Regions from separate parts of the Homo sapiens genome. Here region 2 is linked to region 1. The links come from fine-mapping of genetic effects on gene expression. Tissue or cell type: whole blood. Region 1 holds a variant in brackets; the other region holds the start of a gene. All regions are shown on one strand. Distances are between the middles of the regions.

Region 1 (4,208 bases):
ACGATATATCAGGGCAGAATTGCTTAAGAACTTCAAAGGGAGAACTATACAATGCCATTGCAAAAGGGGTGCTCAGTGGACAGTGAGGAGCCTGAGGTCCTAAGAGGTTAAGCAACCTAAGGTCACAGAGCCTTTGAGAGAGAGTTGAGCCTCTGGGTCAGCCTTCCTGTCCTGGCCAGGCAGGAGCCTCACTTGCCCAGACTGCAGCCAGCACTGTCTGTATGTGCTGTCTACAGCATAGTCATTAATTGGTCCAAGGTTTCCAGCCAGAAGTGTTCAGGAAATATTTGTAGACTGAATTGCTATTCATCCTTCCCGACGGTCAGCTTCCTGAGGAGGCATTATTGGTTTCATTTTGATGTTTTCCACTACTCTTTTAATTTGTTCGAAAGGCATGTCTTTCCCTTCTCTTCTGATCTTTATCCATTCACCTGATAACAGGTGCTATCTGAGCACATGCTCTGTGCCAGGCTTTGTACGGTGACCATTTCTCTGGCCCAGGGAAGGTTTTGCACCTTAGCACTCAAGAGGTAGAGTAGCATGGTAGAGTTAGTGGTTAGGAGACCAGACCCATTCTCCCATTCACTAGCTCTTGACTTTAGGCAAGGATATCTTTGTCTCTTTACCTGAAAATGGAGACATCAATAAGAATTCTTTCATAAAGTTTGGAACAATGCTTGGTAGAAGGAAAGAAAAAAGCCACTCAATACCCATTAGCTATTAGTGCTGCTCCTGGTTTACTCCTTCACCGTGGGCTGCACACACTCAAGTCTCCTCCTCCCTCTGGCTGGGACAACAGGACATTCCCAGTCCCTACAAAGCTGCTGCTAATGAAACTGAGTAGACTCAATCTTCCAACAACTAGCACAGTTTTTACTAAGGGGAAAAAAGAATGGGGTGGGAATTTTTTTTATCCCTCCAATATTTCACATCCTTTGAATGTAAGAAAAACAGCAGAAAGGACAGAGTCACAGCAAACATAACTGCCTTGGCCAACACGCTGCACTGCAGCAGCTCTCTGCCTGCCTGGGGGGCTCCTGCATAGAGAAGCTTGATTTGGCTCCTCAGTCACTTGATCATTTGACACTCAGACAGAGGGGAGCTTCTAGGCCCATTTCCCCAAATGGACACTGACTTAGTTTATGCTTTTTAATTCAGTGAACAAACACATGCTGAGCACCCACCTGTCATGGCTCTTAATCTTTTCTGTGCATTCTGGGGAAGGTTATGGACCCTCATCAGACTAATGTACAAAACACACAGAACTAGGCTTATAAAGAAAATTCAATTATAAATTATACAGTAATCAACTTTTTTTTTTTGAGAAGGGTTTCACCCTGTCATCCAGGCTGCAGTGCAGTGGCACCATCGTGGCTCACTGCAGCCTCAAACTCCTAGGCTCAGGCCATCCTCCCACCTCAGCCTCCCAAAGTGTTAAGGATTACAGGCGTGAGCCACCTTGCCCAGCCTGTTATCAAAATATTATAAAGCAATTTATGAGATAGTGATGCATGTACTTCTTTGTTAACACTTCAAGCAACAAACCCTAGCGGCAGGTCTAATAACCACTGTAATTTCAAAGTTGTGATGAGCATAAGTGGTATTTTGAGGTAGCTAAGTAACCGTGATGTGTGATGACAATATCTGTGA[A/C]TTCTACTGGTGACAAAGTGACAGGCACTACAAATACTACTGAAGTTTCTGGCCTACATCCATAATTGAAGGAAATGCTAAATATCAGAGTCACTGAAAATGCATTTTTTTCCCCCTGTCCCAATTCATCAACCCCTGAACTCTATTCACAGAACCCTTGGAGATCCACGGCACCCAGGCAAACCCACAAATACGTGAAAGGCAGTGAGCTGAGGGAAAGCAGTAGAGATGTGGCCATAAAAATGAGCCAGGACTTCCTCAAGAATCTCAGTAGGGAGCAGGGCAGGTCAAACATTTGTAAATAATCACTGAACACGTGCCACGGGCATATAGGCAGAACAATGGGATTTATAAAATGATAGCATTCTTACATTATTCTTACGGTGATGCTTTTGTGACACTTTAGGTCATACTGGCTAAACTTGAACGAAATGGTACTGTTTACCACTTTTAAAAGTAGCAGTAGCTGCCTGCACTAAAGACTTACTGTGTCCTGGGCCCTGTGTCAGGGCCTTGCATACACTAGCTGGATAGGAGGTAGCATTGGCCCAATTTTGAGGATGAGCAGATGAAGGCTCTGAGAGAGAAACTGAGTCACTTGCCCAAGGTCTTCTGGTGGGTACACATAAAGTGGCAGAGCTGAGATTCACACCTGTATCCACCTGTGCCCTTAACAGCATCATCCCTGGGGACGTCCGCTGAGGACAGCCAGGCTGGCTGGGATCCCAGCGTCCTCTCCGCTAAATGTGCTTTGGGGTTGCTCTGAATCTGGGCTCCCATGCTTTGCTCCCACGCTTGAAGCAGGGCCTGAGAACCCACACCATTCCTGGAGCCCTTCCCTGGGCTCGCCAGCACTTACCCCCTGAGGTCGGCGATAAGGATCTGCCCTCCATTGCGCACATCAAAGATTTTGACGGACCTGTCTGATGAGCAGGTTGCCAGGCGGGTGCCATAGTAGTCCATCTGGGCGTCGTGCTGCAAAGGGAGGACAGCTCGGGAAGCCTGCAGGCTGGGTGGGTGGGTGGGTGGGGTGAGGGCTGTCACTACACAGAGTCTAGTTTGGACCAGAATCTCCCTGAAATCAATCTGATCTCAAAGTATCATCACCCTCAGGCAGGAAGCTAGCATGTGGACATTCTCACTTCACCTATGGGCAGTGTCTCTCTGAAATGGACAAAGCAAGCCATGCCCAGCTGGTGTCACAGACCCTTTACATACCTCAGGGAAGGGCTCTTCCATTCCTGTTCCGCAGGGTGGGTATGGGAGAAAAAAAGTTGGCCTAGCTGCCCTCTTCTTCCTCCATCCTCTCAGGCCCTATTCAGTTCTTAGGCTCTGTGGGCTAAAGGGGAATACCCCTGGGTTCAGCTCAGCCCTAGCACCTGATGCTAATGCATGGGAGCAGGCCAAAGGAGTGGGCCTCTGACTGCCTGGAGTCCCCAGTCAGGTCTTCTGTGATGCAGCTCTGGCCTGCACACAGGGTTCCATTCAGATATTTGGGCTCTTTCCAGCCCTGGCCCTGGATCCTTTGTGGACCTTTGTTTTGGGGCTTCTGCTCGACCTTTTCCCTAGTAGTGTGCCCAGAGCTTCCCAGACTTTCCACCCAAGGAACACAATGCCTTAAGTGTCGCTGCTCTCACCACTTGTGAACCGAATTCCTTGATGCTGACTGAGCATGCAGAACTAGGCCTGGCCCCTACCTGCAGATCCTTGTCCGCAGGGTGATGGTCTCTGAGGCACCATGCCTCCTGCACCACTGAACACCCTGGTCCCTTCTGCTTGCTGGCCCTGCCTATTCCAATGGATGTCCCTTTCCCCAGCTGTCCCACCCTGGGAGTTTCAGGACTATCAGCTGCACTCCCATGGCCACCAGGGGCAATTATGCCCATTCAAAGGCACTCATTCTGTCTGGCTCAGATGGGAATTCTCACCTCCCTACGCAAGGAACACATCCTGATTTTTCTTTGGGAACTCCCTCCACTGTATCAGGCCTTGGTTTCTTGGAGGGCAGGCAGTAGAGGAGTGTTTCTGAAGCACTTCTCATGCTTCTCAGTGGAAGGAGGCAGGACATAGTACCTTTCAGATCTAAATCCTATCTCCTTAGTTTACCTGCTGTGCAAACTTTGAAAACACTTCATCTCCTTGAGCTTCAGTTTCCTTATCTTTATTATTTACCAACATCCTATGGGCCTTAGTTCCCTTATCTTTAAATAAGGCTAAAGATAGCATCTGTCTCAACAGTTGTTATGAAGGTTAAACAAGATATTGAATGAAAACTCACGCCTGTAATCCCAGCACTTTGGGAAGCTGAGGCGGGCGGATCACCTGAGGTCGGGAGTTCGAGACTAGCCTGACCAACATGGAGAAAACTTGCCTCTACTAAAAATACAAAATTAGCTGGGAGTGGTGGCGCACGCCTGTAATCCCAGCTACTCGGGAGTCTGGGGCAGGAGAATTACTTGAACCCGGGAGGCGTAGGTTGCGGTGAGCTGAGATCACGCCACTGCATGCCAGCCTGGGCTACAAGAGCGAAACTCCATCTCAAAAAAAAAAAAAAAAAA
Region 2 (4,208 bases), 22 kb before region 1:
GCTTCCGTGGGGCTGATGTACATTCCTTGGGAACTAAAAATGTTCTTGTCCTCTGGGTAGAAGTCAACAGTGGAGGTCAGATGCCCTGCGGAATTGCTGGGTTGGCGAGGGAAGAAGCATGTGCTCCAGCTGTCCCTGGAACACGGTGGCGGGGTGCCCCAAGTGGGCATGGCCCTGGTGGAGGAGGGAGGGAGGAGAGTGGCTCTGGGGTCTGGGTGCAGCTTTGTTGCTGTGTGACCTTAGCTTACTCGCCCTTTCTCCCTGGGTAAAATGAGGCTGTCATCACTAGGAGAGCTCTGAGACCTCCCCAGTCCAGCGCCCCGTTGTTTCCCATGTGCTGTTGCTGCTCTGGCCTCTGTGAGCCCCGGGAGTCCGCAGGGAGCCAGGCTGGTGATTCTACACCTTCCCGAGGAGGAGTCCCACCTCCCGGTTGAGCAGACTGCTCCTGATCATCCTCTCCAGAGAGTGGGTGTGGGGATAACTTCAGCCAGTGGCTATGCTTCAGTCATTTCTGCCAGGTGTGACATGACTGCCTGGCCTGGCGTTTTTTCACATAGCAGCTTGCCTTGCCTCCCTCCAGCAGCTTTGGTCCCTATTTTAGCGGATGCCTCTTCTGAGAGGGAAGTGCATTGGACCTGGAGGTGGAAGATCTACGCTTAGCACGGGCCTGGCTCCTCTCTCATTGACTGGCCTTACGCCGACCACAAATAATTCCCCTTACCCAGAGTCTTTGAGGGTGAAATGAGGCGATGGGGGGAAAGTGGCTTCTAACCTGTGAAACACCCTGCAGATGACAATGGTTTCATACCAGGCCCATAGGACTTCCCAGCATAGGCCAAGGCCACTGCCTCATTTCCCTCGGCCCCAGGAATTTCTTCCTTTCTGGAGTGCTTCATCCAACTGGGTGCCCAGGCAGGAACCCCTAAGGGCCAATGAGTTGTCTGCAGAGAAGTTCTAGCAGTTCAGGAGAGGAGCTCACCTTAGGCTGGGGCTTGCGGCAGGGATGTTAGCAAAGGCTCCAGGAAAGAGGCCTGTGGTGAACTCGGGGCAGGGCTTTGGAGGGAGGGCTTTGCGGCAAGCAGAGGGGAGGTGAAGGCGTGGGTAGAGTACATCAGGGCAGCATGGAGAAGGCTGGGTGGCTTGGGGGAGGGTGGCGATGGGGTCATAACAAAAACATAAGAAGGTGGTTTGGGGCCAGGTGATGGATGCCTTGGGAACTGCTAGCCCAAGAAGTTTGGGCTTTTTTTGCAGGAGGGCAGCCACTGAGGATTCTTGAGGAGAGAGAGACCATAGAATGAATGAAAGAGTTGGAAAGACTTTAAAGCTCTGGGAGGCTGAATCCTTTATTTCGCTGGAAGAAAAACTGAATGCCAAGAGGGCCTCACTTTCCCCAAAGCTATACAGCCATCAGGGGCAATGCTGGGATTCCCCCATGGATCTCTTGACTCCTAATACAGTGCTCTTTCTGATATGCCATCTGGCTCCATAATGAACATTGTGTTCCAGGAAAATCAGTCTGCGCTGAACAGGATGGAATTGGGGCAGGACGTCCAGTGAGGAGGACATTGAGGCAGTAGAGCAGTTGATTGCCGAATGACCACCTACCCTGACTTAAAAGATCAACCTCAGGGAGGATTGGAGCTTTCTAGAGTCTCTTGGGACAGCAGAAGCACAGGCCGGGTTGGACTGAATCTTTAAGTGGACATGAGGGACAAAGTACCTCCTGTTGGTAAACATCTCACCACCAACCCACTGTGGTGGCTAAAATCCCACCTTTAGTCCCAGCAACATATGAGCATGTCACCAGGAGGTCTTCACAGGCCTGTCTGCCACCTGAGTGTAGACATCTTTTGGCCCTGGAGCCCAGAGAGGCTGAATGTGGAGAGGGTGGAGAGAGGTCTGTAGTCCTCAGAGAAGACTTGCAGCTTTTTCAGAGCCACCAACCCATAAAAAAAAAAATCCCCAAACAGAAAAATCCTAACTGTGGTGACCAGGTACCTCCTGAGACATGAAGCCTCCACTTACCTGGACCCTGGAGGCCTCTCCGGGCACAGCTGCCAATGTTGATCTTAGATAAGACCACCAGCAAGTAAACATCCACTGTGCAAAGCTGTGTTATCTTTGGGGAACTGAAATGTCCCCTGGGAGTTGGAAACTCCCCTAGCCACATACCACAGAGTTGAGGAAGGAAGAGCTGATGGACGGAAGAACCATGGCGGGAGGAGTCATCCGGAAGCTACCTCGCTGCCCTGTCAGTTACGGAACAGAGGAGAGATGCCGGCTGGAGGACACAGCAAATTTGAACCAAGAGGAGCTTGGAGGAAGCCCGAGCGACCTGGAGGGGACTGGCTGACCTTCCTCATTCTTTTCAAGTGTGAATAATAACCAAGCCCAGTTTGGCAACTCCTTGAGGGTGAGGACGAAGCCCCATTCTCCTTTTTGGAACTTGGTGGGGCTCAGGAAGCAGGTTCTCTCCAGTCGGTGGCTTTCCTTTCTGTTGCGGGTCTCTTGAGGGCCTGCCTTCATGAAGGCACATGAGTGACTCATCATTTGTGAATTAATTGCTATATGTGAAGGGCATCTGAGAACAAATTATCTTCATAGACTTTTCATTATAATTTTATTTGTACTGATAATTAGTTGGTTTAGCAAGCTCTTTTTTCATAGATTTGGCTAAACTTCAGTCTGAAAGAGGCAAATTCTGGGGTTCTAGAAAGAGATTTTATTCTTTGATATAGGGCTATTTGGTGGGGTTGCTTTTTGTCCTAGTTGTAGCTTTTATAATTTCGAGATTCACATTTTGCAATAGAAATATACAGGCATACCTTGGAGGCATTACAGCTTTGGTCCCAGACCACAATGAAGCAAGTCACACGAATTTTGTTGGTTTCCCAGTAAATATAAAACGTATGCTGATACCATACTATAGTCTAAGTGTGCAACAGCATATGTCTAAATGAATATACATATATATTTTTTTGAGACAGGTTCTTGCTCTGTCACCCAGGCTGGAGTGCAGTGGCACTATCATGGCTCACTGCAGCCTCCACCTCCCTGGACTAAGATGATCCTCCCACCTCAGGCTCCCAAGTAGCTGGGACTACAGGTCACACCACCACACCCAGTTAATTTTTGTATTTTTTGTAGAGACAGAGTCTTGACATGTTGCCTAGGCTGGTCTTGAACTCCTGGCTTAAGTGATCTGCCTGACTTTGCCTCCCAAAGTGCTGGGATTACAGATGTGTAGTCTTTGAAATCCAGTGTGTGTTCTTACAGTGCATTTCAATTTGGACTAGCCATGTTTCAAATGCTCAGCAGCCACATGCGGCTCATTCTAGATAGGCGGCCATCGCTCTTAAATCCTCCCTGACCTTAGCCATGCTCTCTCATCCCTCCTCTTCGCCAAGCTCTGCCTCTCTCACTGGGGCTTCCCTAGCCTCCGGCCATCTTGGGGCCAAAGCTCTAACACTTTGCCTCTCTCGTGTCTTCTGTTCCCCTCCAGTGGCTTCTGCTTTCTGCCTTAAAATACACCCAGGTTCCTAATCCTGAAAACGTCTGTTGTGCACCGATCCCACCCTCCCCTCGTGTTACCATCTCCATTTCCTTCCCCTTTCCTTGTGTCCTCTTCTTTGCTGTGTCCTGGCCCCTCAAAACTTGACCTTGCCTCTCATCCCCACTGCTGTACTGAAACTGTTGTCTCAGCGTTGCTGATCATCCAGCCTTTTAGTCTATGGACCGCTAAGAGCCATAGGACGACCTCAGGGTGGGACGTGGCTTGGAGGGCCATCTCGTCTCAATTTCCAGATACAGACCTGTGTTGGGTTGTGTTGGATTCATGAGGAAAGCTTCATAAGTTTTATGCACGTTTATAAGACTCCATCCTTGGATTCTGATCCAGTAGCTCTGGCGTGGGGGCTTTAGAATCTGTTTCAAGTATCTCAGGTAATTTTGATTATAAATTACCAAGTATCCCAGGTAAATTTTGATTATAAATGCTTGCTTCCAGCAGAAAATATAAACATATGGAAGATGAAATCTTTCTCTCTGAATAACCCAATTCAGTTTCCACTCGTGAATATCTTATATAACCGTAGTACATTTATCAAAATTAAAACACCAGTGTTAGCACATTACTGTTAATCTCCAGACTATTTGTAAGTCACCAATTTTTCCATTGTCCCATCTGTTCTTCCTTTTCTTTCTCTTGT

The links. PIP is the estimated chance that this variant, and not a neighbour inherited with it, causes the effect.
Region 2: GHRL starts here. The variant in region 1 is fine-mapped to the expression of GHRL in whole blood (TOPMed, PIP above 0.99).

Annotation. Positions count from the first base shown.
Region 1 is chr3:10,312,812-10,317,019 of GRCh38, forward strand. SEC13 (SEC13 homolog, nuclear pore and COPII component) reads right to left here. Exons shown (of 9, transcript NM_183352.3): 3 at 2,510-2,625. Among named protein-coding and RNA genes, the nearest start is that of SEC13, 6.2 kb to the right of the region's middle. The variant A/C (reference allele first, on the strand shown) is at 1,651.
Region 2 is chr3:10,290,817-10,295,024 of GRCh38, forward strand. It overlaps GHRL (ghrelin and obestatin prepropeptide), which reads right to left and starts at 2,131. Exons shown (of 6, transcript NM_016362.5): 1 at 2,026-2,131; 2 at 1-635. It overlaps GHRLOS (ghrelin opposite strand/antisense RNA), which reads left to right. Exons shown (of 6, transcript NR_073568.1): 6 at 1,252-2,633. RefSeq lists enhancers at 1-377, 1,889-1,958, 1,969-2,218, 2,029-2,323.